Regions from separate parts of the Homo sapiens genome. Here region 1 is linked to region 2. Evidence: fine-mapped expression QTL. A gene starts in region 2. The other region holds a variant in brackets. All regions are shown on one strand. Distances are from middle to middle.

Region 1 (9,406 bases), 41 kb after region 2:
GCTGCTTGCTGAAGGTGGAGGGGCTGGGTGCTTGTGGTCACGTCTGTGAGAACAGACACTCAGTAGGAGGGGAGCCAGCCTCCCTGCCCAGGGTTGCAGGTGCTCAGCCTACCCGAGTCGTGCTGCCCACCAACCTCTGTCACTGTGGTTCTCTCCCACAACCTGCCACCCCTTCAGGGGTCCCAGGTGGGGGCAGGGAAGGAGGCTGACTGCACCTCGAGCTGCCCTGGTAAACTGCCTGCCTCTCCTCTCCTGCCAAACTCGGGGGTACAGTGTTGTCCTCATGGACACGCATAACACAAAGCCCCTTTCTTTCCCGGATACCACCTCTTTATCCTCTCATCATACAAATGAGAAAACAGACGTGGAGCTTCCTACAGGGCACCTGTGAGCTAATGAGTGTCTCCATTAGTAAATAGGGGGTGGTGGTAGCAAATAGCCCACCCCACTGGCTGTGCACCCCACGCTACCCAGGCAGCTCCCTGCTATCGGGGAAGCCCAGCTCCGTCTCTGTCACTCTGCTGCCTGTTTCCTCTGCTCCTGGGCTATTATCTGGGCTGGCTGAGGCCAAGCAAGGCCTCTAGAGGAAGTGTCCCCTCCAAGGTCTGTTGCCACTGGCTGGGCCTCTAGGAAGGGTTGAGAGGGCTTCCAGGGCTGGGGTGGCCCTCTAGGACAGCCTGGTGTGGGTGGCGGTGGGGCTGTGGCCTCAGTGGCCCTGACTGCTGAGCATGTGGCTGAGCTTGCTGGAGTGAGGACGTCCTTGGGTGGGGGCACGGAGGACTGGCCCTGGAAGCTGCTCCAGGCCCTGGAGGGCCCAAGATTAAACAGCACCTGGCAAGAGAACCTTGCATAGCTGTCTCCAGGTTGGACAGGTGGGGCTTCAGGCCTGGAGATAAGGGCAGACCAGGCCACGGTGTCCTGGACCAGAGAGCCCTGGACATCTGGGCTGCACCTGGCAGAGCTGTGCGTGTGGCCTTCCTGGGCTCTTGGTGGCCGAAAGACCAATGTTAAAAAACATAACAGGCCAGGCGGGGTGGCTTACACCTGTAATCCCAGCACCGTGGGAGGCCAAGGCGGGTGGATCATTTTAGGTCAGGAGTTTGAGACTAGCCTGGCCAACATGGAGAAATCCCATATCTACTAAAAATACAAAAATTACTTGGGCATGGTGGCGCATGTCTGTAATCCCGGCTACTGGGGAGGGAGGCTGAGGCAGGAGAATTGCTTGAACCTGGGAGGTGGAGGTTGCAGTGAGCCGAGATCGTGCCACTGCATGCCAGCCTGGGAGACAGAGCAGGAGTCTGTCTCAAAAAAAAAAAAAAAAAAAAAAAAAAGAAAAGAAGCTGAAACATCCACCCAACAACACATGCCCCAGTGAAACTCACTTGCCTGTCCTAGCATGCCCAAGGCCATAGCAACTGAGACCAGAAGGCCAAGGGTGTTACTCAGCATCAGTGGTTCTGGGCCTTCCTGGGTCTAGAGTCCCTTTGAAACGCAGCTGAACAGACCCCAACATGAGCCTGAAGAGTGTTGACCTAAAAGGAAGAAGCCTAGGCAAAATTAATATCAGCGGAGACTTTATTTGGGCCAAGCTTGAGGATTGCATCCCAGGAGCACAGATTCAAGTTGCCCTGAATATACACTCCGATTAGCAGAAGTTGAAATGGATTTTAAAAGGACAAGAGAGCTCCTGAGTTGTTTACTAAGAATTTACATTAAAATAACAAACTGGCTGGCTGCAGTGGCTCAGGCCTGTAATCCCGGTTCCTCTGGCAGCTGAGGTGGAAGCATTGATTCAGGCCAGTTTGAGACCAGCTTGGACAACATAGCAAGACACCGTCCCTACAAAATAAATAAATAAATAAATAAGTAAATATATAAATAAGTTGTCGTAGTGCATGCCTGTGGTCGTAGCTACTCAGGAGGCTGAGGCGGGAGGATCGCTTGACACCAGGAGTTGGTGACTAACTACAGTTAGTGAGCTATAATCGTGCCACTACCCTCCAGCCTGGGTGACAGAGCGAGACCTTGTCTCTAAAAAAATAAAAATAGGCCGGGTGTGGTGGCTCACACCTATAATCCCAGCACTTTGGGAGGCTGAGGTGGGCGGATCACCTGAGGTCGGGAGTTCGAGACCAGCCTAACCAACATGGAGAAACCCCGTCTCTACTAAAAATACAAAATTAGCCAGGTGTGGTGGCTCATGCCTGTAATCCCAGCTACTCGGGCGGCTGAGGCAGAAGAATCACTTGAACCTGGGAGGCGGAGGTTTTGGTGAGCCAAGATCTCACCACTGCACTCCAGCCTGGGCAACAAGAGCCAAACTCTGTCTCAAAAAAAAAAAAACCCAAAACAAAAACAACTAAATAAAAATAAATTAGTGACACCCCGTCTCTACCAAAAAAATAAAATAATTGGGTGGGTGTGGTAGCACGTGCCTATAGTTCGAGCTACTCCAGAGGCTGAGTTGGGAAAATCACTTGAGCCCAGGAGGCCAAGACTGCAGTGAGTTATGATTATGCCACTGCACTCCAGCCTGGGTAATAGAGCAAGACCCTGCCTCAAAAAAAAAAAAAAAAAAAAAAGGCTCAATAAAAGGTTATTTGAAAGATAAAAATCAGGCCAGGCATGGTGGCTCACGCCTGTAATCCTAGCACTTTGGGAGGCTGAGGTGGGCGGATCACCTGAGGTCAGGAGTTTGAGACCAGCCTGGCCAACATGGTGAAACCCCATCTCTACTAAAAATACAAAATTAGCCAGGCATGGTGGTGCCATGCCTGTAGTCCCAGCTACTTGGGAGGCTGAGACAGGAGAATTACTTGAACCTGGGAGGCAGAGGTTGCAGTGAGTCGAGATCACGCCATTGCACTCCAACCTGGGCAACAGAATGAGTCTCACCACAACCTCCGCTTCCCGGGTTCAAGCGATTCTTGTGCCTCAGCCTCCTGAGTAACTGGGACTACAGGCGCGTGCCACCATGCCCGGCTACTTTTTGTATTTTTTAGTAGAGATGGGGTTTCATTATGTTGGCCAGGCTGGTCTTGAACTCCTGGCCTCGTGATCTGCCCGCCTCAGCCTCACAAAGTGCTGGGATTATACGTGTGAGCCACCGCGCCTGGCCTATCGGGGGAGTTTTCAATAGGCCCTAAGGGAGTCAAGTCTGGGTTTCTGAGACAAAGAAAAGGTTGGAGGGGTCCTGGTGTTCCTGGCCTAGATCAGGCTTGGGCTGCAGCCATGAAGGTGCTGTGATCAGGGGCAGTGGAGGCTGCTGGCCCCAAAGGGACACACTCTACTGGGCGTGGTTGGGGTTTGGTGACACAGGCATTGAGAAGTGACAGCAGATAGTGCAAAGTGTGCATGGGTATAACTTCTGGAGAAGTTCAGGTAACATCTATGCGAAGGCACAGATTCTTGGTGTTAACGAGCATGCATATTGGCCTGCCATGTGATTATATTTGTATCATCAACTCGCACTCCTGGAGTTGGGAATCATGTCTTTTTACTTAACACAGGTAAGGAGCCCTGCTCAGGGTGGGAAACACAGATAATACTTAACACGTTTTGGGAAGGAGTAAAGAAGTGAAGGCCAGGCGTGGTAGCTCACGCCTGTAATCCCAGCACTTTGGGAGGCAGAGGTGAGCGGATCACCTGAGGTCCGGAGTTCGAGCCCAGCCTGACCAACATGGAGAAACCCCGTCTCTACTAAAAATACAAAATTAGCAGGGCGTGGTGGTGCATGCTTGTAATCCCAGCTACTCAGGAGGCTGAGGCAGGAGAATCGCTTGAACCTGGGAGGTGGAGATTGCAGTGAGCCGAGATTGTGCCATTGTCTGGGCAACAAGAGCAAAACTCCATCTCAAAACAAAACAACACAACAACAACAAAAAAACAAAGGCTTAGCTCACAGGTATGCACTAGAGAGGTTGAGCTAGTATGCTAGCTGTGTGATTATTCCTTCTGTCTTGCTGCTCTGCCATTTTAAACACGTCTTTACCTTATGATCCACTGTGGCTGCTTGAGTTCCAGCCATCACATTCATCGTCCAGCCTGCAGGAAGGAGGAAATGAAGAACAGAAGATAAAAGGCCCATGCCAGCTGTCTGTCAAGAAGCTTTTTCTGGAAGCTGTCATATATCCCTTCCACTTACATCTCACTGGACAGAACTTAGTCACATGGTCATACTAGCTGCAAAGGAAGCTGAGAAGTATCAACTTCATTCCAGGGTGCCATGTGTCTAAATTAAAAATTATGAGTTTTTTTAGTCAGGGAGAGAGAGAGAAAGGATATTGGGTGGACAGCAAGCAGTGTGGCCACACAGGGATCACCTCTGAGAAGAGGGACCTTTGAGGTTCCATGCTTCCCAGGAGATGCCCACTTCCCTGCCTTTCCTGTCAGCCATGGAAGGGCATGGTTAATACGAAGCTGGCCCAGATCCACGTGTGGTCCCCTCATCTCCCCAGTGACTTCTCTCCAAGCCTCTGTCCCCATTCCCTGCAACCTTGGTCACCAAAGTCACCCTGATTCCCA[A/G]TTGTGGGTCCTCCAATCTCTTCCCTTTCAGCATCTACCAGACAATGTTCCCCGCTGGGATGCCCCTGCCCAGATCACTCTAACCTTCAGGGCCCCAAGTCAGTTTCACTGCTGAGGACAACAGCCCTCTTTCCTGGTTCCCTGTCCCTTTCCTGAATTAGTTTCTGCGGGAACTGAGCCACATGGTTCGGCTTCATCAAAGATAGATTTGCCAAATTGACATACAATTCACATATCATAAAATTCAGCCTGTAAAATTGTACAAAGGCTAGACATGGTGGCTCATGCCTGTAATCCCAGCACTTTGTGGGGGTGAAGGGGGATGCTTACTTGAGTCCAGGAGTTTGAGACCAGTCTGGGCAATATAATGAGACCTTGTCTCTTTTTTTTTTTTAAAGTGTACAAGTCGGTTGTTTTCAATATATTCACCGAGTTGTGCAACCATCACCACTAAGGCACAGGCGGATCTTTTTTTTTTTTTTTTTTGAGATGGAGTCTTGCTCTGGCACAATCTCGGCTCACTGCAAGCTCCGCGTCCCGGGTTCATGCCATTCTCCTGCCTCAGCCTCCTGAGTAGCTGGGACTACAGGCGCCCGCCACCATGCCCGGCTAATTTTTTGTATTTTTAGTAGAGACGGGGTTTCACCGTGTTAGCCAGGATGGTCTCGATCTCCTGACCTCGTGATCCGCCCGCCTTGGCCTCCCAAAGGCCTCCCGGCCTTTTTTTTTTTTTTTTTTTTTTGAGACAGGGTCTCCTTCTGTCACCCAGGCTGGAGTGCAGTGGCACGATCTCGGCTCACCACCAGCCTCTACCTCCTGGGTTCAAGTGATCTTCCTGCCTCAGTCTCCCTAGTAACTGGGACTACAGGCATGAACCACCATGCTCAGATAATTTTTGATTTTTTTTGGTAGAGACAAAGTCTCTCTGTGTTGCCTGGTCTGGTCTCAAACTCCTCTGCTCAAGTGATCCTCCTGCCTTGGCCTCCCAAAGTGCTGGGATTACAAGCATGAGACACTATGCCCGACCCTAAGACAGATCTTTAATCTCAGTGACTTCTCACCAAAAGAAGCTGCTTTTCTCCTCTGAGCATTGCAATTCTCATGTCATTATGAGTGGCCCAATCAGGTGTTCAGAGGTTCCACTTGCTCACCTGTGTCTCCTCACAGTCACATAGGTATCTTCCCTTCAGTGCCTCTTTGCTGAAAATCATCTCTGCACCAGGCACTGTGCGAGGCTCTGGGGATACAGCAGTGAATATGCCGTGCATGGGCCCTGCAGGCATCAGGTACCAGGTGGGAAGGGTGTTCCAGGGGTGGGAACAGCCACTGCTAAGGTCTGCAGGCCAGGAAGATGAGGGAGGTCTGGGCTGAGCAGTGGTGAGGATGGAGATGGGATATTGCCCGCAAGCTGTGGCTCGCGTGGTTTATCTTGGTGGAGAGCTGGGTGTTTCCAGTGTTTGGCTGGGGCAGCTTCCAGCTTTGGACACACTTCTATTTTTGTTTCCTCTTGGGCTCCTTCTACAGGGCTTATTCCCAAACGCTGGAGTGCTGGGTCAAAGGGCTCCGGAGGTTTTATTGGTCTCAGGAAATTCTGAGACCGTGCTGACTTGTACGCTTTTAGAGAGTGAATTTTATGACATGTGAATTGTATGCCAATTTGGCAAATCTATCTTTGATGAAGCTGACCAGTGTGGCCCAGTTCCCACATGGAACAATTCAGGGCAGGGACAGGGAGCCAGGTGTGAGGGCTGTTGCCTCTGAGCCACCTGTGACCTGTGCTGTGTTCTCTGCTGCAGTTGCCAACTAGAGTTGAGTTTTACCTTTTGGATTTATTTTTTGCCAGTTTAATGGATGTTTAATGGCACCTCGGAGCTGTCTTTAATGTGTGTGTCTTTAATTACGAGGGCAACTGGCAGCCATGGGGCTTGGCCCTGGATTTCCACCTTGTTTCCTAATTGGATGCTGGGCTCCAGCCTTGCTGTCCCACCCGACAGCAACAAGGAGTGGAGTGGAGCCGGGTGCAGTGGCTCGCGCCTGTAATCCCAGCACTTTGGGAGGCCGAGGCGGGTGGATCACCTGAGGTCGGGAGTTCGAGACCAGCCTGACCAACATGGAGAAACCCTGTCTCTACTAAAAATACAAAATTAGCCGGTCGTAGTGGCGCTTGCCTGTAATCCCAGCTATGTGGGAGGCTGAGGCAGGAGAATTGCTTGAACCCAGGAGGCAGAGGTTGCAGTGAGCTGAGATCGAGCCACTGCACTCCAGCCTGGGTAAGAGCAAGACTCTGTCTCCAAAAACACAAAACAAAACAAAACAAAACAAAACAAAATACAAAGGAATGGAGTGGAGGAGGTGGCGGGGAGCAGGGGGTGGAGGGTGGGGTGGGGTTGTGGGTAGAGTGGGGCTGGGAGACTGCGAGCTCTTAGCGCCAGAGGAGGACTGAGATTTCAGCCTCAGCTGCCCTACTTGCCCCCATTCCCTTCTGAGCTGCACTTTCCTGGCCTCTGAAATAAGAGTTCATTTGTTCAAAAACATAAAAAAAAAAAAAAACTGCCTTCAGTATCTTGGCTCTGCCACTTCCTGGCTGTGTGGCCTTAAGCAAGTGACTTAACCTCTCTGGGCATCAATTTTTTTCATTGTAAAGTGGGGATAACCAATAGATCCTGCATTTTTTTTTTTTTTTTTTTAGATGGAGTCTCTCTGTCGCCCAGGCTGGAGTGCAGTGGCGCAATCTCGGCTCACTGCAAGCTCCATCTCCCGGGTTCACGCCGTTCTCCTGCCTCAGCCTCCCGAGTAGCTGGGACTACAGGTGCCCGCCACCGTGCCCGGCTAATTTTTTTTTTTTTTTGTATTTTTAGTAGAGACGGGATTTCACCGTGGTCTTGATCTCCTGACCTTGTGATCTGCCCACCTCGGTCTCCCAAAGTGGTGGGATTACAGGTGTGAGCCATCGCGCCCGGCCAGCTCCTGTATTTTGCAGCTGAGGAGGGGATTAAGTGATTGAGATGTGGGAAGTGCTTAGAATGGAGCCCAGCAGAGATCAGTGGGCAGCGGACATCGGTGCTCTCATGGACCCAGTGGGCTCAGCACTGCGCTCTCTGCACTGCAGTCATGGGTGAGCCCATGATGGCTTCCACTTGACAGGGGAGCAGGCAAAGCAAGCACGCGAAGGTGCCGGGTGCATGGAGTGGAACCCTGCTGTGGGAGGAGGATGGGGGCTGCTTTACAAGAGAAAGGACTTTTCTTTTCTTTTGTTTTTTGAGACAGGGTCTCACTTTGTCACCCAGGCTGGAGTGCAGTGGTGTGATCACAGCTCACTGTAGCCTTGAACTCCTGGGCTCAAGTGATCCTTCTGCCTCAGCCTCCCTTGTTGCTGGGATGACAGGTGTGCTCCATCATGTGAGGCTAATTTTTGGATTTTTTTGTAGAGATGAGGTCTCACCATGTTGTCCAAGTTGGTCTTGAACCCCTGGGCTCAAGCAATCCTCTTGCCTCAGCCTCACAAAGTGCTGGGATTACAGGTGTGAGCTACCATGCCAGGTCATGAAAGGACTTTTCTGAGAAAGGGACATTTGAGAGACCAGTATGGGATAAGGGGAAAGGGTGTGTGTGTGTGTGCGTGTGTGTGTGTGAATGTGTGTGAGCATGTGTGAATGTGTGTAAGCATGTGTGAATGTGCATGCGTGTGAGCATGTGTGAATGTGTGTGTGTAGGGAGTTGGGGAGTGTGTGACTCAGACATGTTGAGCTCCAAGTTGAGTGGTCGGCGATGCAAAGGTGCCGAGTGGGGGAGAGCGATTGAGGAACCAGCGTGGCCAGAGTGGAGGAGAGGAGGAAGGATGAGGTCAGGGTGGTGAGGCGGCACCTCTCCACGGCCTTGAAGGTCATGGTGAGCTGCTGAGTCAACTCAGGGAGAAGCCACTGGAGAGCTTTAAGCCCGGCATGGCCGTGAGCCAGGCAGTTTCTGAATGACTCCTTCAGTGCTGGGTGGATGCCCCCTGGAGGAGGATTCGTGCCTGCACCCCAGCATGGCTTGGAGGCACAGGGTGAGGCACAGCAAGTGCCCCCCTGGAGCATGGGAGTGCCCGGGGAGAACAGGAAGGGAGAGCCGGCCTGGTGTCAGGTAGTGGGGGCTGGGCCGGGCCTCACTCTACAGTAGCGGGACCCCAGGCCGCGCAGGCTGCACTCTGAGTCACGGGGCACCTGGACGGGCACTGGGCAAATGGCCCTGGGCCCCACCCTTCCTGGCTCTGGCTTCCCACTGCCTCCTGCCACCTGGGTAGCTCTTTGGGACCACTCCCCTGGGCATTACTGCTAACTCCACCTCCACTATTTCACCCTCAAGTGGTGGGTGGGGAGACGACCCCTTCTCAGACACTTGGGTGGGAAGGAGGGGGACCCCGAAGATCTAGCAACAGAGGGTCAGCTGCCCAGAAGGCTTTGGAGGCTGTTTTTTGTTTTTTGAGACTGGGGCCCTGAATTATCTGCTTAGAGAGCTGGGCCCCAGCCAGGCCGCTGGGGTGCCAGGCGGAGCTCCGGGGCTGCCTGCAGCAGGGAGAAAGCCTCACTCTGACCTGGCTCTGGTTGGCTCAGGGCTCTTGCTGGATCTGGGCCCCCACCTGCCCTGGCCTCCTTGGCTTCCCCTTCCGCCCAAACCCCAGAGCCCTCCTGCTTCTGGCCTTTGAGACTGAACCAGAGCTAGCTAAAAAATTCGAACCCAGGCCGGGAGTGGTGGCTCACACCTGTAATCCCAGCACTTTGGGAGGCTGAAGCGGGTGGATCACCTGAGAGGTCAGGGGTTCCAGACCAGCCTGCAACGTGGTGAAACCCCCGTCTCTACTAAAAATACAAAAATTAGCCAGGTGTAGTGGCGCACGCCT
Region 2 (11,453 bases):
TCACTGCAAGCTCCGCCTCCCGGGCTCACGCCATTCTCCTGCCTCAGCCTCCAGAGTAGCTGGGACTACAGGCGCCCACCACCACGCCCAGAGAATTTTTTGTATTTTTAGTGGAGACGGGGTTCACCGTGTTAGCCAGAATGGTCTCTATCTCCTGACCTCATGATCTGCCCACCTCGAACTACCAAAGTGCTGGGATTATAGGCGTGAGCCACCGCGCCCAGCCTAATAGTTTTTTTAAAATTCCTTGGCATCATCCTGACTCCTCTCTTTCCCTCGCACCCCACATCCAGTCCATCAGCAGATCCTGCCAGTTCTGCTTTAAAAATAAATCCAGGGATCAGCTACTTCTCACCACCTCCCTGGTGACTCTCTGAATGTCTAAATCTGACCATGCTGCCTCTGCTCAAATCCTTTCCAGGTTTTTACTCAAAGGCAATGCCAGAGTCCTTAGAATGACCTTCAACTTTAGGTCTCCAAATACCCTTTCCTAAACCCCCTCCCCTAGGCCCACCCTAGCCAGGAGCAGGTGTTGCCCTCGAGGCCTTACCATCTGCCCTTCTCTCTGCCTGGAACTCTCTTCCCATCATCCCTGTGGCCTTGGCTCCAGTGGTGCTTCTCACCAAGGTGAGTGCTGACCACCTCTGCTACCATCACTCCCCCCGCCCCTGTGACTCCGGATTCTCTTAACTCTTTTTTTTGAGATGAGTCTCACTCTGTCGCCAGGCTGGAGTGCAGTGGCACGATCTTGGCTCACTGCAACCTCCGCCTCCCGGGTTCAAGCGATTCTCCTGCCTCAGCCTCCCGAGTAGCTGGGACTATAGGTGCGCGCCACCATGCCCAGCTAATTTTTGTATTTTTGGTAGAGATGGGGTTTCACCATGTTGGCCAGGATGGTCTCCATCTCTTCACCTTGTGATACGCCCACCTAGGCCTCCCAAAGTGTTGGAATTACAGGCGTGAGCCACCGCGCCCGGCCTCTCTTAACTCTTTTACATGCTGCCCCCATACAAATCTTCTCACGCATGATAGGATGCTTTTGTGCTTGTTTGCTCATGGCCCCACCAGCTCACTAGAAGGTAAGCTCCACAAGGGCAAGGATTCCTGACGCTTGGGTTCACCGAGGCCCCCTAGCAACTGGAACAGCCTGTGTCACACGGTGAGCACTCACTGTGTGGCGCGAGTGAATGCTGAGTGTGTGTGGGGGGCAGAGAGCAGGGGAAGTTTGTGAGCAGAAAAATGGCCAAGTGCAAGCTCAGGAAGTTAAAGAAAGCTGTGGAGGCTGAGCATGGTGGCTCACGCCAGTAATCTCAACAGTCTGGGAGGCCAAGGTGAGAGGATTGCTTGGGCCCAGGAATTCGAGACAAGACTGGGCAACAAAGCAAGACCCCACCTCTACAAAAAATAAAAAATGAGCTGGTGTGGTGGCATGCACCTGTGGTCCCAGCTGTTCTGGAGGCTGAGGCAGGAGGATCGTTTGAGCCCAGGAGTTTGAGGCCTGCCTGGGCAACAAAAGGAGACCCCGCCCCTGCCCTCATCTCATGAAAATGTGAAAAATGCTGGGCATGGTGGCTCACGCCTGTAATCCCAACACTGTTGGGAGGCTGAGGCGGGTGGATTACGAGGTCAGGAAATGGAGACCACCCTGGCTAACACGGTGAAACCCCATCTCTAATAAAAATACAAGAAATTAGCCCGGCATGGTGACACGCGCCTGTAGTCCCAGCTACTCTGGAGGCTGAGGCAGGAGAACTGCTTGAACCCAGGAGGCAGAGGTTGCAGTGAGCCGAGATTGCACCACTGCACCCCAGCCTGGGCAGCAGAGTGAGACTCCGTCTCAGGAAAAAAAAAAAAAAAAAAAGAAAAAGTAAAAAATAAATTAACTGGGTGTGGTCCACACACCTGTATTCCCAGTTACGTGGGAGGATCACTTAAGCCCAGAAGTTCCGGGCTGCAGTGAGCTGAGATCGCACCTCTGTACTCCCTCCTGGGTGATAGAGCGAGACCCTGTCTCAAAACAAAACAAAACAAACAGAAAAAAAGAAAGCAAGCTATGGGGTCCAATCTGAGAGAATCGAGTGTGGGTGTTTATCCGTAAGAGAGCGAGGGGAAAGAGGCCTCTTAAGCCTTCTTAATCCTGAAAATGGGGAGGAGGTCTTTTAAGCTGCAGTGCCAGAGTGACATGACCTAGTTTTCTATTTTTAGAGATGGGGTCTGGCTATGTTGCCCAGGCTGGTCTTGAATTCCTGGGCTCAAGCCAGCCTCCTGAGTTGCTGGGACTACAGACATGTGCCACCCCACCCAGCTTGACCTGGTTTTTGTGTTCAGAAGATATCTGTTGTTGTTCCAGGTGCCAAGGCCAGTGCTGGGCACAGGGGTGCTAGAGCCTACTGAGAAATGGACATAGAACCCCAGTGTCCATCCTTCCATCTTGGAGCCTGTGCTTCTCACCCCACACAGCCCTGCTGTCTGGGAGGACTGTCTGCCCCTTGAGGTCATCTGCCCCTGGCCACTGTGCCAGGACAGTCCTGCTGTGGGTACGAGCCACAGGGCAAGAAAGAACACATCTGGGAGCTGGAAGGCCTAATCCCAGGGAAAGCATGTAGCCTGGGGCAGGGCACCAAGGAGGCTTCCAGCCCCCACATTCTAAGGAAAGAAACACCAGGAAGGTGTGGCCTTAGGCAGGCCCCTTTTCCTTTTCGGATCACTGCCTGCCTGTCACTGATTTCTGTCCTAACCCCACACTAATAGCTGCTATATATATATATATGTATTTTAAGAGCTGGAGTCTCCCTAAGTCACTCAGGCTGGCCTTGAACTTCTGGGCTCAAGCGATCCTCCTGCCTTGGCCTCCCAAAGTGCTGAGATTACAGGTGTGAGCCACCACGCCCGGCAGCAACCATTTTTTAGCTTTAATGTGCACCAGCTCTGTAATCAAGTGCATCCTATATGTTCCTGCTAATTAACTCAACAGTCCTACAATGGTGGTTATTAATTGCTGTTTTACGAAAGAGGAAACTGGGGCTCTGAGAGTTTGGGGACCGACCCAAAGCATTCAGTGCCTGTGGATGCAACTGGGATGCAGGGAGCCAGTGGGCTGGGGGTGAGGTGTCCCGGCAGGTGGAGGTGGTGGGGTACTTACCTCCATGATGGCTGCTGCTGGTTGGCTGCTCCTGCTGGTGACTGGCGTCCCACAGGAGGCCTGGGGCCTGGCGATGATGCTTGCCGGAGCCTGAGGGCCCGTCCCCTGCGGGGCTGGGGCCCAGGCCCCTCTCTGCAGAGCTGGAGTCTTCCTGCTCACTCGGCTCAAACTCTGGGATCTGGAACATGCTCTGGGCTGTGAGGACAAGATGTTACGTAGTCAAGGCACAGCTGGGGCCAACGGTGGCCCTGGAAGGCAGAGGCAGGTACCCCTGGCTTCCTCTCCCACCGTAGCGCCCCCAGGCCCGCCAGGCCTCCTGGGCCCTCATCTGTCTGCCGGGTCTGGCCTGGCAGGGAGCTGAGGCTGTCGGCTCAGGACCTCAGTCTCCCCTCAGAACCCCGGTGGACCCAGGCCCCGCCCCGCCCGTGGTGACGGCGCACAGGTCTCACCCCAAGCCCGATCTCGAGGCCCCTGACCCGGGCCTGCCGCCTCCCTCCAGCACCCCGGGCTCCGGGCCCTAGTTGCTTGGGCAACGGGAACTGTCAGCGACCTGGCCCAATCACCTCTCGGAACGTCACTCGGGTAGGTCCAGAGGCGGGGTCAACCCGGCCCGGCCCCGCCCCCCCGCCGGATCCAAGGCTCCTCGTCCGCATCCTTTTTCCTCCCTCCTTCGGCCCCGGGGCTCACATCCTCGCTGCCTCACACCTTGGGCGTGTGTGGGAGCAGGAGAGGGATTCTCTGGGGTCCCCATTTGGAACCTGGAGACCCACTTCTGCCAACAAGTCCTTCAGCCCCTCTGGGCCTTAGTTTCCCCCCAGTGAAGTGGGGATAGTGACAGCTCCCCCGGGAGCCAGTGAAAACTTTGTGAAGGGAGTGATTACTGCGGGCGAAGGCGCTTGGCACAGCCACAACTGAAGCTCAGCCGTCGGATGTGATTATTGTTGCTATTGTTACCGCTCCGCCTGGACTGGGTGCCCGGTCGGAAAGTCCCGCTCCCCGCTCCTCCTCCCAGGCGCGGAAGCTTCGCGCCGCCCGCCTCGGGGGACACCTCCCGCGCCATCTCGGGGGCACTGGAGATAAGGAAAGGAACCTCCTCCCTGGCTGGGATGGCTGCCCGGGCGCGGGAGGAGGGCCGGGGACCCGGTGAGGGAGGACCGTAGGGCCCGTGGGGGCTTCACGCCTGGCAGGCGGCCGGCCAGGTGAGCAGGGCCGCGGGCGCGCCGGGGCGAGGGGCGGGCCCGCGCGGGGGATTCGGGGCTCCGCGGGTTCAGGCCCGGGGGCGGGGCCCGGGGGCCATCTTGGCTATGGGCGGAAGTTTTCTTCAGAGACCGAGGGACGGGAATCCGTTGCCGCCCCCGGCCGGGCGGCACGACCCCGATTTGGGTATAGGAGAGAGGAGCGTGGGAACTGGCGGACCCCCATACAAGTAAAGGCGGGCGGCACGGGGCACGGCCCACCCGGGGACCCCCTGGATGCGGCACGGCCCCCGCAACTCGGCCGCCCTCCTGCCGCCTCCCGTAACCCCGGGCGCCCGCCAGCGGCGCAGCTCGCGCCAATTCTCGTACGGTTTCACGCCGGGTGCGGCGCTGGACTGCGGAGCCAGCCGGGCCGCTGCGCAATTTGCGTAGCGAACGGCGCCCGCGCAGGCGCGGAGGGGGAGGGGGGCGGAGCAGCGGGAGCCGGGGAGCCGGAGCCCCGGGTCCCCACGACCTGAGCCGGCTCTCCCATCAGCGGCCTGAGGACCTGGCGTCCGCCTCCTCCCTCCCCTTGAGGCTGGAGCGTGGACGCGGTGGGGGAGGGTGGGGCGGGGGCAGCTTTCGAGAATTACGAGGACAGGAGGCAGAGGCCCTCCCCATCCGCATTATTGGAGGAGAGAGAGCCTCCCCCAGCTTGGGGAGGGGGAGAGCGGGGCATTGGGCGCCCCTCGCAGCGGCCGCTGCCCTGACCCGACGGGTATCAGCCGGCTCTCCCCCTCCACCCAGGACGACATGAACGACCGAGGCCAGGGAGTCCTCTCCTTGGGCCTCTGCATCCCCCCATCCTTGGCTCTGGGGTAGGCCCAGGGAGGAGACACCCCCAACCCCTATCCGGTCTGTCCTGGAGAAAAGAGACTGCCCTTCCATGCCCCTGAGTGAGGGGCCTGGGGCCCAGGCTGCCTGTGTTCCCCAAGGGCAAGGGTCTCTCTGTTGAGGAGGAGGGGCCTGTCAGCCACAACTTCTTTCCTCCTGAGCGCCCCATCTCCCTCTCTGCACCCTGCAATTCCCACCCCTCCGTATTTATTTCCCTGGTCCCGCCGACAGTCCCTCCTTGTCTGTCTCCGGGATTCAGGCCTCCCTCCCTGACATGGAGAGTAACCTGTCTGGCCTGGTGCCTGCTGCCGGGCTGGTGCCTGCGCTGCCACCTGCTGTGACCCTGGGGCTGACAGCTGCCTACACCACCCTGTATGCCCTGCTCTTCTTCTCCGTCTATGCCCAGCTCTGGCTGGTGCTTCTGTATGGGCACAAGCGTCTCAGCTATCAGACGGTGTTCCTGGCCCTCTGTCTGCTCTGGGCCGCCTTGCGTACCACCCTCTTCTCCTTCTACTTCCGAGATACTCCCCGCGCCAACCGCCTGGGGCCCTTGCCCTTCTGGCTTCTCTACTGCTGCCCCGTCTGCCTGCAGTTCTTCACCTTGACGCTTATGAACCTCTACTTTGCCCAGGTAACCAACTGTGGTCCCGGGTGGGGGGCGGGAGGTGGCAAGCCTCAAGGACCCACAGGAGTGAAGGGCATCTCTGCTCCTAGGTGGTGTTCAAGGCCAAGGTGAAGCGTCGGCCGGAGATGAGCCGAGGCTTGTAAGTACTCGGGACACTGGTGGGCTCAGCCTCCAGGTCAGGGGCAGGTGACAGTCCCATGTAGATCCCTTCCCACCTCTCAGGGCTGAGACAAAGGCAACCCAGGGAATGTCTGTGGAAGATCTTGGAAAAGTTAAAGCACCTGGCGCAGATGGCTCAGCAGAGGCCTTGCAGATCTGCAAGGCACAGGAATAGGAATGCTTGTGGTAGTGTGAGGGAGAGGGCCCCAGTGTCATCCACCATGGAGGGCGAGCTGGAGGCTCCAGCCCATGGAAGCACCAAAGCCATATGCACTCCTGGGTGACCTGGGGCCGCAATGCCCTCGTCATTTGTACAGTGTCTTACGGTTTATAAAGAGCTTTCCCAGCCATCTTTTATTTGTACAATTTCCCTGAGAGGCTACTATCCTCCCTTGAGAGATGAAGAAACTGAGGCCCAGCCAGGTAAGACAGCAGGATCAAGGTCGCAGAGCTGGGGCTCAGACAGAGACTTCTGACTCCAGTTGGTGCACCTTCCGAAGTACCATGGCTGTCAGTCACCTTCTGACCTTTTTGGGCCTCAGTTTCTCCATCTGTAAGAGTGGAGGAACAGGGCTCAGACTGGATGCCCTGAGTTTTGTCGACATTGGGGTTTCCTGCAGGAGGTGGGGCAGGTGGTGAGTGCTGAGGGCTGTTGAGGGCCCGCGCTGACTGTGCTGTGGCTGCAGGCTCGCTGTCCGAGGGGCCTTTGTGGGGGCCTCGCTGCTCTTTCTGCTGGTGAACGTGCTGTGTGCTGTGCTCTCCCATCGGCGCCGGGCACAGCCCTGGGCCCTGCTGCTTGTCCGCGTCCTGGTGAGCGACTCCCTGTTCGTCATCTGCGCGCTGTCTCTTGCTGCCTGCCTCTGCCTCGTCGCCAGGCGGGCGCCCTCCACTAGCATCTACCTGGAGGCCAAGGTAGGGCTGCAGCACTGATGCCCAGGTGTCTTTTGGGTCTCTCGGCAGCGGTTCTCAGGGTGTAGAGGAAGCTGGGAGCCTTCTCTCCCTGAGGGTCCTCTGTTGTTACCTGTGCCAGGGGACCAGTGTGTGCCAGGCGGCCGCGATGGGTGGCGCCATGGTCCTGCTCTATGCCAGCCGGGCCTGCTACAACCTGACAGCACTGGCCTTGGCCCCCCAGAGCCGGCTGGACACCTTCGATTACGACTGGTACAATGTGTCTGACCAGGTGGGCATACGCATGTCTGCCACCTCCTTAGTAGCCGTGGCACCTTGGCCCCAGCTGGCCTGGGCCCTGTCCCACTACCCCTTTGGCGTGACTGCAGACTGGCACCAGCCCCTGCCTTCCCACAGGCGGACCTGGTGAATGACCTGGGGAACAAAGGCTACCTGGTATTTGGCCTCATCCTCTTCGTGTGGGAGCTACTGCCCACCACCCTGCTGGTGGGCTTCTTCCGGGTGCACCGGCCCCCACAGGACCTGGTAAGGGTCTGCTCCCTCTTCTGTGGGGCCAGTGGAGGGGGCGGATGTTGCAAATCCTGGGTTGGAGTCTGGGGTTGGGCCTGGGAGGCCAGTGCAGGACAGGAGTAAGTATCGATGATGGCTTCCTCCCCCAGAGCACCAGCCACATCCTCAATGGGCAGGTCTTTGCCTCTCGGTCCTACTTCTTTGACCGGGCTGGGCACTGTGAAGATGAGGGCTGCTCCTGGGAGCACAGCCGGGGTGAGAGCACCAGGTAGGAGCCGTGGCACTGCCTCAGTACCCCTGCCCTACCCGCCCACCCCGCTGGCTCCATCAAGCTATGGGGGACCGAGATAGCCGGGTCTTGCCTTCCACCCCTGCCATGGCCTTTGCTTCCCCATCTGTACTAGGTGAGGTCCCCTGGGTTCCTATTGCTAAAGCCTCCACCTCTTGCCTAGAGATGTACTTTGTCCTGGGCCCCGAAGGTCTAGGTCACAGGGGTTCTGTTCTAAGCCTGTCTTCCTCCTGCAGCTCTTGTGACTGTGGCCCTGGTCACTGTCCTGAGACTGACCCTGTTTCTCTGCTGCAGTATGTCGGGCAGTCTAGGCTCTGGGAGCTGGTATGGTGCCATCGGGCGTGAGCCGGGCTGGTATGGGGGCAGCCAGACGAAGACCACTCCTCTGCTCTTCTCCCAGGTGCCAGGACCAGGCGGCCACCACCACAGTCTCTACTCCACCCCACAGACGTGATCCCCCTCCCTCCCCCACAGAATACCCAGGCCCCAGTCCCCCTCACCCTAGGCCCCTGTGCCAAGTTTGTCTGCCGCTTCTTGCCCAGGATCCTGGGGGTCGTGGCTACCCCCTCCTCTGGCCGGCTCCTTGCTGCTCCTGTCATAGTGAGCTTGTGCCGTCCCCCTAGGATGGGGGGCATGGCCCTGGCTGCCAGATGCCCACAGCACCCTGGCATGACCTGCCACCTCTGCTTCCACACCGGAGCCAGCTACCTCTCCTGTGCCTGCCACTCAATAAACAGTGTCTGCGCCCCACAGTTGTGCACCTGTCTGTCATCTGCCTTGTGTTCCTATCACTTTTGCCTGTTTGGCCTAAGGCTGAACAGACACTAGCCCTTGAAGTGGGCTGCTAGGCTGGGCAGGGGTGACTTACCCCATCAAGGCTGGTGGGCTGGGAGAGGAGGGGCCTGCAGTTTGCAAGGGAAGGAGACCACACAGGCCTTTGTTCTCAAAGCTCTCCTGGCCCAGAATTGCCCCACTACCTCCAGATCCCTCTCCACTTGAACAGTTGCTACTCTTTCCTCAAGACCTGCGTCAACTGTTACCTCCTTTAGGAAGCCTTCTGTCTCCTGGTCAAGGGACATGGCCCCTCTGCTGGGCCCCACAGCTCCACATTACTGATTATGTGGCCATTGAGGTTCTTTGTTTTGTTTTGTTTTTTGAAGCAGGGTCTCACTCTGTCACTCAGACTGGAGTGCAGTGGCACGATCATGGCCCACTGCAGCCTCAACCTACCAGGCTCAAGCAATCCTCCTGCCTCAGCCTCCCGAGTAGCTGGGAATACAGGCACATGCCACCATTCCTGACTAATTTTTTAATTTTTAATTTTAGAGGTGGGGTTTCACCATGTTGCCCAGGCTGGTGTCGAACCCCCGGGCTCAAGCAATCCACCCACCTCAGCTTCCCAAAGTGCTGGGATTACAGGCATGAGGTACCATGCCTGGCAGCTTCTGAGTCTTAACCCCAATGGATTAGACTTTCTGGAGGCCCTGTTTCCCTATCACCACCCCAACCTGGTCTTTAGGAGTCAGGAGTTAGTCCAGGGCTTGCTGGGGAGTTGGCGCAGTGACTGAGCAGCCCCCATCTTCCTACCAGGGCGTGGGTTTGCCCAGATGTACAGGTGGTCCCCTAGCTATGCCCTCCCGTTAGCCCTCTTCTCCACTGTCCTTAGTAGCATAGTCACTGCCCTCTGCTTCCATGGCCCTGGCAGGTCTGTCTGATGGCTAGGAGTCCTTTGCTGGAGGGTCTGTCCCCTGCCCACATAGGTGGTTGTCCCAGCTTTTCAGAGTTCCCTTGGCTTATCACTGGGCCTGCTTCAAAACCCTTTACTTGGGACCATCCTGGGCACCAGGCCCTCAGGGCCTCCAGAGAGGGCATCTGAGACTCATAGAGAATCAGCTTGAAGCTGGACAATCACTTTTTGTTGAAATAAAAACTGCTAACGTTTGTGGGGCACTTTATTGTGTGTGCCAGGCTCTGTTTTGAGGATTTCTAAACACTGGCCTCCTTAATGCCCAGAACAGCACCCCGAAGTGATGATTAATCATCCCTTTTCTGTAAGTGGGAACAGGGAGACTCCAGAGTTTGGTAACCTGTTCAGGTTCCCTACCAGTAGCGGGTGGTCAGCCTCAAAGCCCAGGCTGAAAGCCATCCAGCATGAGGGCTGAGGACCCCAGCAGGCACCAGAGGGTCTTTGGAGAGGTCACAGGTTGTCAAGTGGGTGAGAACAGGGCGGGGCAAGTTCAGGACCAGCCAGGGCCTGGGTGTTCAGGCAGTGGGAGAGTGGATGCTGGCACCAGTGCCATGCTGGGATCTGCAGGCAGCTTCAGCCACAGCCTTCCGGGGCTGATTTCTGGGCATGGAAGTGAGAACCAAAAGCTGGGGCAGGGAGCACCCTGGAGGGATAGCCGGGGAGCAGGTAGAGGGCCAAAACCTGGAGTGGGGGCAGGAGGTGCTCCAGCAGCAACTCCCCCAGAGGTGGGTCCCAACCTCCACGTCGGCCAATTCCAGGTGGCCCCACCGGGTTTCCCCCACCCCTTTGTCCCGCGGAGCCCCTCCCTCATGAGTGCTGAGCCCAAGGGCCAGGCTGTCCCCAGGGGCGGAGAGTTGCGGACCCTTCCCGATCCGGTAATGGGCCTGGGAGATGCCAGATTAGCGTGGTGCCTGTCCGGAGAGACGGGCCAGCTGATGCCCAGGTCGGGGCCCTGCCGCTGGCCACACTGGGCTCCGGTCCAAGGCTAGAAGGCTGGCCCCTGCTGCAACCCCTCTCCGGCTCCTCTGCCACCCACCTCCCGGGGCTGGCCGGCTGTGGGGAGCCAGGCGGCCGCAGGTAAACGGCTTGGGGCGGCGCCGGCGGCGAGGGCGCTGCACGGAGGGAAGCGCGGCGCCGGAGGGGTTAACCGCGGGAGGAGGGGGGCTTCTGCCGGCGGGAGGGGGGTCCCAGCCCCGGCGGCCGCCCGCTCCGCCCCTGCCGCCTCCGCGGCCCAGTCGGCACCGGCGAGGCCGTGCTGGAACCCGGGCCTCAGCCGCAGCCGCAGCGGGGCCGACAGTAAGTGCGGTGCGGGCTCCGGTGCGCGGGCAGGACTCAGGGGCAGGGACGCCCCAGGGGCGACTGGCCGGGCGGGGTGCCCACCTCTCGCGCGTGGGCGCCTCCGGGAGTGGTGTGGCCGCCGGTCCCGCCGCCCGCCACGCTCCGAGGCGTCGCTGTGCGGACGCGGGGGAGGCGGTGGGAGCGAGCTGCGGGCGCTGCGCGGTGGCCCTGCTGTCTGGCGTGTGCACGCTAGTGTCCACACACGTGTGCGTGGGCTCTGGGTGCCCTGGCGCGGCCGGCACGCCCATGGGGGCCGGGGATGCCGGGGCGTCTGCGGAGAGTGCAGGTGGGGTGCGTGCGTGCAGCGGGGCGGCGCGGCGCTGCAGCCTCGGGATGGAGCGTGGGCGCGCGGGTCTTTGTGCCCGCGCTTGGCGGCGCGTGCCGGGGCGTGTGTGCGCGTGGGCGCCGCCGCCCGCTGTCTCGGACTGACAGCTGTCTCGGGGGCTGTCGCCCCGGTGTGGCCTTTGCGGACCCCCGCCCCGCTTTTTCCGGGAACTGGGCGTCCCCAGCACCCCTCCTCGCCTGGGTGCGGCGGCCGGGACCCGCCCCTGGGTTCCTCGAAAGCCCGGCGGGGCGCGGGGGCACCCTGGAGGGCCAGCCAGGAAGCAGGGCGAGGCGAGAGGGGACGGAGAAGCCGCGGAGATGCTGTCACAGCCGCAGCGGGC

Evidence for each region.
Region 1: its variant is fine-mapped to the expression of GPR137 in whole blood (TOPMed, PIP 0.99).

The regions. Positions count from the first base shown.
Region 1 is chr11:64,323,490-64,332,895 of GRCh38, forward strand. It overlaps LOC102723878 (a long non-coding RNA gene), which reads right to left. Exons shown (of 4, transcript NR_188518.1): 3 at 3,995-4,047; 4 at 1,561-1,842. Among named protein-coding and RNA genes, the nearest start is that of PRDX5, 10 kb to the left of the region's middle. RefSeq lists a silencer at 1,851-2,003 and enhancers at 7,545-8,067, 8,333-8,382. The variant A/G (reference allele first, on the strand shown) is at 4,528.
Region 2 is chr11:64,281,040-64,292,492 of GRCh38, forward strand. GPR137 (G protein-coupled receptor 137) reads left to right here and starts at 4,809. Exons shown (of 7, transcript NM_001170880.2): 1 at 4,809-5,842; 2 at 5,926-5,975; 3 at 6,682-6,907; 4 at 7,026-7,175; 5 at 7,301-7,429; 6 at 7,564-7,682; 7 at 7,998-8,455. The coding sequence starts at 5,486. The coding sequence ends at 8,157. It overlaps BAD (BCL2 associated agonist of cell death), which reads right to left and starts at 3,626. Exons shown (of 4, transcript NM_032989.3): 1 at 3,592-3,626; 2 at 3,143-3,337. The coding sequence starts at 3,329. It overlaps KCNK4 (potassium two pore domain channel subfamily K member 4), which reads left to right and starts at 10,263. Exons shown (of 7, transcript NM_033310.3): 1 at 10,263-10,527. KCNK4-CATSPERZ (KCNK4-CATSPERZ readthrough (NMD candidate)) reads left to right here and starts at 10,683. Exons shown (of 11, transcript NR_133662.1): 1 at 10,683-10,746. RefSeq lists silencers at 3,506-3,795, 4,146-4,885.